2 separate regions of the Homo sapiens genome follow, and region 1 is linked to region 2. The links come from fine-mapping of genetic effects on gene expression. A gene starts in region 2. The other region holds a variant in brackets. All regions are shown on one strand. Distances are between the middles of the regions. Region 1 overlaps NPRL3 (NPR3 like, GATOR1 complex subunit). Region 2 holds the start of NPRL3 (NPR3 like, GATOR1 complex subunit).

Evidence for each region. PIP is the estimated chance that this variant, and not a neighbour inherited with it, causes the effect. A credible set is the group of variants that fine-mapping cannot tell apart.
Region 1: its variant is the best candidate, but not a certain one, in a credible set for the expression of NPRL3 in whole blood (INTERVAL, PIP 0.78).

Annotation. Positions count from the first base shown.
Region 1 is chr16:90,203-94,702 of GRCh38, forward strand. It overlaps NPRL3 (NPR3 like, GATOR1 complex subunit), which reads right to left. Exons shown (of 14, transcript NM_001077350.3): 10 at 3,017-3,123; 11 at 2,394-2,523. Among named protein-coding and RNA genes, the nearest start is that of MPG, 14 kb to the left of the region's middle. The variant T/C (reference allele first, on the strand shown) is at 2,625.
Region 2 is chr16:136,372-140,597 of GRCh38, forward strand. NPRL3 (NPR3 like, GATOR1 complex subunit) reads right to left here and starts at 2,302. Exons shown (of 14, transcript NM_001077350.3): 1 at 2,271-2,302; 2 at 1,779-1,963. The coding sequence starts at 1,896. RefSeq lists a silencer at 1,732-1,961 and an enhancer at 2,182-2,231.

The DNA.
Region 1 (4,500 bases), 46 kb before region 2:
TGTGACTGCTTCGCTGAGCAAACCCCCCACCCTGTGCTGCTGCAGCTGCCCCTCTGCCTCCTCTCTTCTTTGGCCCACTGGCCCTGGAGTTGGACCCAGCCAGCAAGTCCACCTCCACACAAGCCCAGACACTGTTTAAAAAGAGGCTGTGGGCAGGTACCCTGAGAGCAGAAAGTCCTCTCCTTGGATCTACCTGAAAGTCCACCCTGAGCACAAGAGTGGATCCACAAGAAAGCTGAGGCCAGTGACCCTGGGCTTGGGGGTGGAGCACCCCACCCCCACCCCCACCGTGAGAAGGCACGTCCTGGCCAGGCCCTCCAATGTCTCTGGGTTAGCAGGTGGGGCTGGCAGTGAGGAGCAGTGAGGAGCCTTGTGCCAGGTAGAGTCCAGTCCCCATGAGAAAGTACTGCCCAGACTCAGGCGTTGAACAGTAAGGAGTGTGAGACACATCAGTGTCCTCAGATACACATCTGTCTACTCATCTCTGGGAGGGTCAACAAGGAGCTGCTGGCCAGGGTCACCTCCTGGGAGGGGGCTGGGGAACTGGGGATGGGAATGGGGGATATATCCCAGGCAAGTAAGAAGACTTGGTCAAAAGGACTGCAAGATATCCAGACTTCACATGAATTTAAGAAATAAAACAGACGCGGGTGGATCACTTGAGCTCAGGAGTTCGAGACCAGCCTTGCCAACACAGTGAAACCTCATCTCTACTAAAGATACAAAAATTAGCCGGGTGTGGTGGCACACACCTGTAATCCCAGCTACTTGGGAGGCTGAGGCAGGAGAATCACTTGAACCTGGGAGGCGGAGGTTGCAGTGAGCCAAGATCACGCCACTGTACTTCAGCCTGGACAACAAAGCAAGTTTCTATATCAAAACAATAAAAAAAAAGCTGGGCGTAGTGGCTCATGCCTGTAATCCCAGCACTTTGAGAGGATGAGGTGGGTGGATCACCTGAGGTCAGGAGTTAGAGACCACCCTGGTCAACACGGTGAAACCCCGTCTCTACTAAAAATACAAAAAATTAGCCAGGCGTGGTGGCGGGCACCTGTAAACCCAGCTACTCGGGAGGGTGAGGCAGGAGATTGCTTGAACCCGGGAGGCAAAGGTTGCAGTGAGCCGAGATCATGCCATTGCACTCCAGCCTGACGTGCAATCAAAATTAAATAAAATCAATAAACCAAAAATAAAACAGAGGGGCTTCCCAGCACTGGAGCCCAGGCAGAACCTGGCTGACCTAGGCCCCTTGACAAGGCCTGGAGCAACCACTCAGTCATGGCCTGGAAAAGCCACTCCGTTATCTAGACCACAGGAGGCCTCTGAGAAGGGAGCACCAGCAGCTCCTCCCTAAGCACTGCCCCAAGAGCAGGGGTGCAGAGAGTGCCTTTTATTCAGCTGGTACAACCTGGCTCAGCTCCCAGAAACCAAGGGCTCTGTGAAAGACCGCACTGAGAGCTCTGTCAGGTTTAGCGTCTAACGGAGCTGAAAAGCCAGAATCGTTCTCATTCGTAATTTGAGAACGGAAAGGGTTTAACTTTAAGGACTGGTTTTGCCTAATAGATCTGGCACTTACTCAGATACTTCTGGAGACAAAGACTTGAGAACACCCAGCTCGTCTGTCTCCAACACCGTATCCTATCTGGCCCTGCTCTGAGTCTCTGCCCAGAACTCAGTGGAGGGGAGGATGGCAAAGCCACCTCAGCACAAGGCTATGACACCTGCAGCCCACAGGGGAAGCCACTGGCCCTGCCACAGATGCAGGTGCACCAGTTCATCCCACAGACCTGCAGGAGGCCTCCTATCCCCCAGCCACTCCTAGCTCCCAACCTGCCTGCCCGTTGCCCTGATCCAGGCCCACTAGGGTCCTCTCTAGGCTCTCTTGAATGAGGAGATTCTGGGGACCAGTGACCCCAGAACTCATACCCACAGACCCTGTGGCCACCTGAACCATGGCAGGGAGTGAAGACAGAAGCAGAACTCTCAGAGGGTCAGGCCTGGCCCAGTGAGAACAAAACTGCCTTTGCACCCTCATCTGTAGGCAGTCCCCAGTCCCAAAGGGGTACAAGGCAGGTCTGTAGGCCCAGAAAAGGTAAGCACTCTCCTGCTTAACTCGGTTCTAACACTAAAAACTGCCTGCCACAGCCAGGGTGGGCTCTATGGGGAGGGAACAACTGCTCAAGTGTTGGGTCACTGGCCAAGCATCTGCAGGTGGCCCGGCAGCTGACTTTTGGGTCCTGCTGGGCACGTAGCACTTGCACGGCAAGCCCCCAAAACCAAGGAGAAGCAGGTGGCAGTGCTGAGGGCTCTCAGATCAGAACCAACAGCCAGGCAGGTAGTGCCTATCCACTACACACCTGCCACTCTGGGCTCCTTGAGCTTCTGTGACTCACCTCCTGCACAGCGGGGGCCAGGGGATTCCTAAATTCTGACAAGGAGACCGGCAAGGAGAACTTGGCAAGAACGGACGGCAGGTCATGAGATGGGAACTGGTGGGAGAACTGCTCGGCCAGCGGGGAGTACCTGCAGGCAGGTGAGCATGCCAGTGAGTGCAGCAGACCCCCCCACCGTGTTCTCAACACTGGCCTCAGTGGGCAGCAGAGAAGCAAAGTGTGGCAGGTGGG[T/C]CAGGACAGTGCGATGAGGGCAGAACGGTATGAGGCCAGGCAGGCCTCCAGGTGGACAGAGCCTGGGCACTTCCCCTTGAGCAGCAGCAGGAGCCATGGGCACAGTTCATCCTGCATCTCACCTCTGATCCCTCAAGGTGGATTAGAAGAGCCAGCCTGGAGGAGGGGGCCAGGCATATGGGGGACACAGGAGAGCCACAGAGCACAGAGCCAGACCAGAATTGGGACCTGGGTATGCTAGTGGCCAGGAGTTAGGCTGAAGTGAGAGCCTGGCCTTGGGGCTTCCACAGCCTTTGGTGCCTGGCCAACACAGAGAACAGCATCTGGAGGGCCCTGCCAGCCTCACCCCTTCCCACTCGGGGCTCCAGGCTCTGGCAGCCAGCAGCACTCACAGACATACGCTGGCATTGGGAGACAGCATGTAGACGTTGTTCTCACACAGCGGGTAGATGATGATGGCCTTGCCCCAGTACACCAGATGAGCTGCAAGCTGGAAAACCTGCAGGCAAAAGGGAAGCTGCAAGGACCATGCCTGAGGCTGGCCCACCGGGAGCTGTCAGCAGCTCTCAGCCTGGGTGGCCATGGCCTACCAGCCTGGAGAAGCTGGCCCCAGCCTCATGCAGAACACACCTGGTGGCTATGGCCCGAGACTTCCTCCCTAACGTGGAATAGCACCTTCGCAACCTCTCACTAGGATGTGGGGCACAGCCAGCACACAGCACTTTCTGTGAGCAATGGTTTTTTTTTTTTTTTTTTTGGAGACAGTCTTGCTCTGTCGCCCAGGCTGGAGTGCAGTGGCACAATCTCAGCTCACTGCAACCTCTTGCCTCCCAGGTTCAAGCGATTCTCCTGCCTCAGCCTCCTGAGTAGCTGGGATTACAGGCACATGCCACCACGCCCAGCTAATTTTTGTATTTTTAGTAGAGACAGGGTTTCACCATGTTGGCCAGGATGGTCTCGATCTGACCTCGTGATCCACCCACCTTGGCCTTCCAAAGTGCTGGGATTACAGGCATGAGCCACCGCACCCGGCCACAATGGCCTTTTTGTCACTGCTCCCTGTGCTGTTTGGTGGCACTGTTTTCCCATCCTATGCTGTCTTGACTCCCACTGAAGAATGGTGGTCTCAGGCCACAAGCATGGGAATGTCTGGGGTGCTGGGAACACAGTGCTGGCCCAGCTGGGCAGGGGGCTTAGCTGGATGTCCTGGCAGGGGCACAGCCCTCTTATACCCCCTAAAACTCCAGCATGGCCTTGCCCGATGATGGGTGTGGAGTCACTCAGCATGCCACCCCTACATACCCAAAGGCCCCAGGTCTGCCCCATGTGCCCCGACTCCCACAGAGACCCCCCTCCCAGCTTTGCTCTTGTGGACCCTTGAACATCAGGAAACACAAACACAACCCAAACCCCTTCCAGAGGAAAGCTCAGGCCTGAGGTCTGAGAGCACAGCACCCCAGCACTTCACGAAAAGGTGTGTGAAATCCTAAGCTCTCGCACTTCTGCCTCTGCATCAGCCCAGGACACCACTCCACCCTCTTGGCGGGTAGGCCTCTGTGGAGGTGAGTCACCCCTGCCTGGACACCGTGCTGCCCTGCTGCTGAGGACACTTATACCTCAGCTCAGAAAACAGGGCCTCCAGACTGAGTGAGTGGCTCATGCCTGTAGTCCCAGCATTTTGGGAGGGCAAGGCAGGAGGATCGCCTGAACCTCGGAGTTCGAGACCAACCTGGGCAATATAGTGAGACCCTCATCTCTGCCAAAAATTTTTATTTAATTAGCCAGGCACTGCGGCACATGCCTGTAGTCCCAGCTACTTGGAGGCTGAGACAGGAGGATTGCTTGCACCTGGGAGGTGGGGGTTGCAGTGAGCCAA
Region 2 (4,226 bases):
GACTTTGCTTGTGCTTAGAAAAAAAACACAAGTGCAGGCTGGGCGCGGTGGCTCACGCCTGTAATCCCAGCACTTTGGGAGGCCAAGGCGGGCGGATCACAAGGTCAGGAGTTGGAGACCAGCCTGGCCAACATGGTGAAACCCCATCTCTACTAAAAATAAAAAAAAAAATTAGCTGGGCATGGTGGCGCATGCCTGTAGTCCCAGCTACTCGGGAGGCTGAGGCAGGAGAATTGCTTGACAGGGGGTCGGAGGTTGCGGTGAGCCGAGATCACGCCACTGCACTCCAGCCTGGCAAGACTGCAAGACTCGTCTCAAAAAAAAAAAAAAAGAAAAAAGAAATACATACGCCTGTATTGACACAGAAGGTCCTGGAAAGACACAGAAAAATGGGAACAGTAGTTACCCCTATGATGGAAACTGAGGGCTGGGGGCCAATAGTAGGAAAGAACTTTCTTTTCATAATCTAAACTCCTTTGTATCTTTAAAACTTTCTGCCATATCAACAAGTTTAAAAATAATTTTAAAACAAAATACAAAATAAAAACTGAACAGTCCGGGTGCGGTGGCTCACACCTGTAATCCCAGTACTTTGGGAGGCCGAGGCAGGTAGATCATTTGAGGCCAGGAGTTCGAGATCAGCCTGGCCAACATGGCAAAACCCCATCTCTACTAAAAAAAAAAAAAAAAAAAAAAAAAATTGCAGGGTGTGGTGCACATGCCCTGTAGCCCCAGCTACTTGGGAGGCTGAGGCAGGAGAATCCCTTGAGCCCGGGAGGTGGAGGCTGCAGTGAGCCGAGATCACGCCACTCAACTCCAGCCTGGGCGACAGAGTGAGACTCCGTCTCAAAAAATAAATAAAATAAAAACAAAAACTGAACATTCATGATGATGAAAAATCAAAAGTAACCTACATGCCGTCCACAGGGGAAGGCAGCAGCCTGCAGCCAAGGGTGAGGTTGATCCCTGCTTGCAAAGGCAGACGGAGCTCCAAGGCCGACTATGGGAAAAGGGCGCCACAGAACAATTCGTGCGATGAAAAACCTCACGCGACGTTCCCTTTTCCTGTGGATAGATCTGCATCTATGCACAGGGCAGACAACTCCCAACACGGCCAGGGGTGATCCCTGTGCTTGCTAGAACTGGGGGTGGCAAAGACAACTTCAGATGTTCACGTAACTTTTTTTTTTTTTTTTGAGACGGAGTCTTGCTCTGTTGCCCAGGCTGGAATCCAGTGGCGCGATCTCGGTTCACTGAAACCTCCGCCTCCCGGGTTCAAGCAATTCTCCTGCCTCAGCCTCCCAAGTAGCTAGGATTATGGGCACGCACCACCACGCTCGGCTAATTTGTTTTTTTTTATTTTTATTTTTTCAGTAGAGACAGAGTTTCAACCATGTTGGCCAGGCTGGTCTCGAACTCCTGACCTCAGGTGATCCACCCGCCTCGGCCTCCCAAAGTGCTGGGATTACCGCCACCGGCCTTGTTCGTGTAATTTTGTATTTTCTCATGATGAATACATCCCAAACTCATTTTATTTTATTTTACTTTATTTTTTAAAGGCTGGAGACTGATGAAATGTCAGCAGTAGTTGCTTTGGTGTGGTGAACAATGCATGATTTTAATTTTTTTTTTCCTTTTTCTACTTTTCAAATACTCTACAACGAGCAGATCTCGAATGCCCAGCAAAAGCTAAGCTCCGCGAGGCGGCCCTGGAATGAGGCGACCCCGGAATGAGGCGGCCCCCGCGAGCGCCAGGCCCCCGCCCAGCGCTCACTTACTTGTCTGGGACGCCGGGTGCTCCTGGCTTCTCTGGAAGGGGTACCTGAACAGCAGCTTATTGCCCCTGCTCCCCGAGCTCACCAGAATCACGCTGATGGGGCTGGTGTTGTCCCGCATCCCGCCGTGGGGCCGGGGCCGGGGGCGGAGGGGGCCAGAGGAGGACGGAGCCGGAGGCGGAGGGGGCCTGAGGAGGACGGAGCCGGAGGCGGAGGGGGCCTGAGGAGGACGAGGCGGGGACGCAGGGGGCCTGAGGAGGGCAGGGGTGGAGGCGGAGGGGGCCTGAGGAGGGCAGGGGTGGAGGCGGAGGGGGCCTGAGGAGGGCAGGGGTGGAGGCGGAGGGGGCCTGAGGAGGGCAGGGGTGGAGGCGGAGGGGGCCTGAGTAGGGCAGGGGTGGAGGCGGAGGGGGCCTGAGGAGGGCAGGGGTGGAGGCGGAGGGGGCCTGAGGAGGACAGGGGTGGTGGTGGACGCGGAGCAGCGCCACAGTTACCAACCCACGTGCCACGCTCCGGGCTCGCGAGACTTCGGCGACACCGTCCGGAGGAGGTGCTAAGGCGGCGGCCGGGAGAACGGCGCAGGCGCAGGCGCAGGCGCAGGCAGCGGAATGCGCAGGCGCGGGGCCTTCTGGAAGCCACCGAGTTCCGCGGTGCTGTCTGGAGCCGTACGGTTCGCGTTTGGGGCACAGGGGCCCCTCTTGCTGGTGCGGATGGGAAAGGCGCGGGGTCGAGTCAGCGTCCCTCTCGATGTTGGTTTCTTCGTTTTACAAATAACACTTGGGCGGGGCGCGGTGGCTCACGCCTGTAATCCCAGCATTTTGGGAGGCCGAGGCGGGCGGATCACGAGGTCAGGAGATCGAGACCATCCTAGCTAACATAGTGAAACCCCATCTCTACTAAAAATTAGAAGAAATTATCCGGGCGTGGTGGCAGGCGCCCGTAATCCTAGAGGAGAATCGCTTGAACCCGGGAGGCGGAGGTTGCATTGAGCCAAGATCACGCCATTGCACTCCACCCTGGGCGACAGAGCGACGAGACCCCGTATCAAAAAAAAAAAAAAGAAAGAAAGAAAGAAAAAAGAAAAAAAAAAGGCCGGGCGCGGTGGCTCACGCCTGTAATCCCAGCACTTTGGGAGGCCGAGGCGGGTGAATCACGAGGTCAGGAGTTCGAGACCATCCTGGCCAACATGGTGAAACCCCGTCTCTACAAAAAAAAAAAAAAAAATTAGCCGGGCGTGGTGGCGGGCGCCTGTAATCCCAGCTACTCGGGAGGCTGAGACAGGAAAATCGCTTGAACCCGGGAGGCGGAGCTTGCGGTGAGCCGAGATTGCGCCACTGCACTACAGCCTAGGCGACAGAGCGAGACTCCGTCTCAAAAAAAAAAAAAAAAAAAAAAAACACTTGGAAGCCGACAGGAGATCTTTGAGACCTTGGGCGAGGCAGTGACACTAAAGGCAGGAGCGACTACAGAAGAATAAATTAAACTTCATCAGATTAAAAACTTTACTGCGGCCGGGCGCGGTGGCTCACGCCTGAAATCCCAGCACTTTGGGAGGCCGAGGTGGGCAGATCATGAGATCAGGAGATCTAGACCATCCTGGCCAACATGGTAAAACCCCGTCTCTCTACTAAAAATACAAAAATTAGCTGGGTTTGGCGGCGCCTGCTTCTAATCCCAGCTACTCGGGAGGCTGAGGCAGGAGAATCGCTTGAAGCCGGGAGGCGGAGGTTGCAGTGAGCCGAGATCGTGCCACTGAACTCTGGCCTGGCGACAGAGCGAGACTCCATCTCAAAACAAAACAAAAACTTCGGTGCTTTAAAGGACACCATCAAGAAAATTAAAAGTCCACCCACAGAACGGGAGAAAATATTTGTAAGTTACATATCTGATAAGGGAATTGTATCTAGAATGGAGGAAACTTACAACTCAACAATAAAAAGACAATTGAAAAATGCACAAAGGATATGAATATTTTTCCAGTGCATTATGCAAATGGCCAATAAGCACCAGAAGATGCTCAGCTCAACTGGTAGAGGCTTACGCCTGTGACCCCAGCGCTGAGAGGCCAGGAACTCCAGACCAGCCTGGGCAAAACAGAAATTAAAAATGCTCAACATTATTAGGCATTAGGGAGATGCAAATCAAAACTACAAATAGATGCCACATCACACCTCCTACGATGGCTGTAATCAAAAAGACAAGCGTCAGCAGGGGTGTGGAGAAACGGGAATCTCTCTCCTGCTGGTGGGAATGTAAGAGGCTACACTCGCTATGGAAAACAGGCTGGCAGTTCCTGAAAGGTTAGAGTTAACACAACACTCGGCAAATCCCCCTTTTAGATATATAGCCAAGAGAAATGAAAGCATATGTCCACACAAAAACATGTGTGTTCTTAGTAATATTATTCATAATAGCCCAAAGTGGAAGCAATCCTAGGGTATATCAATTGATGAA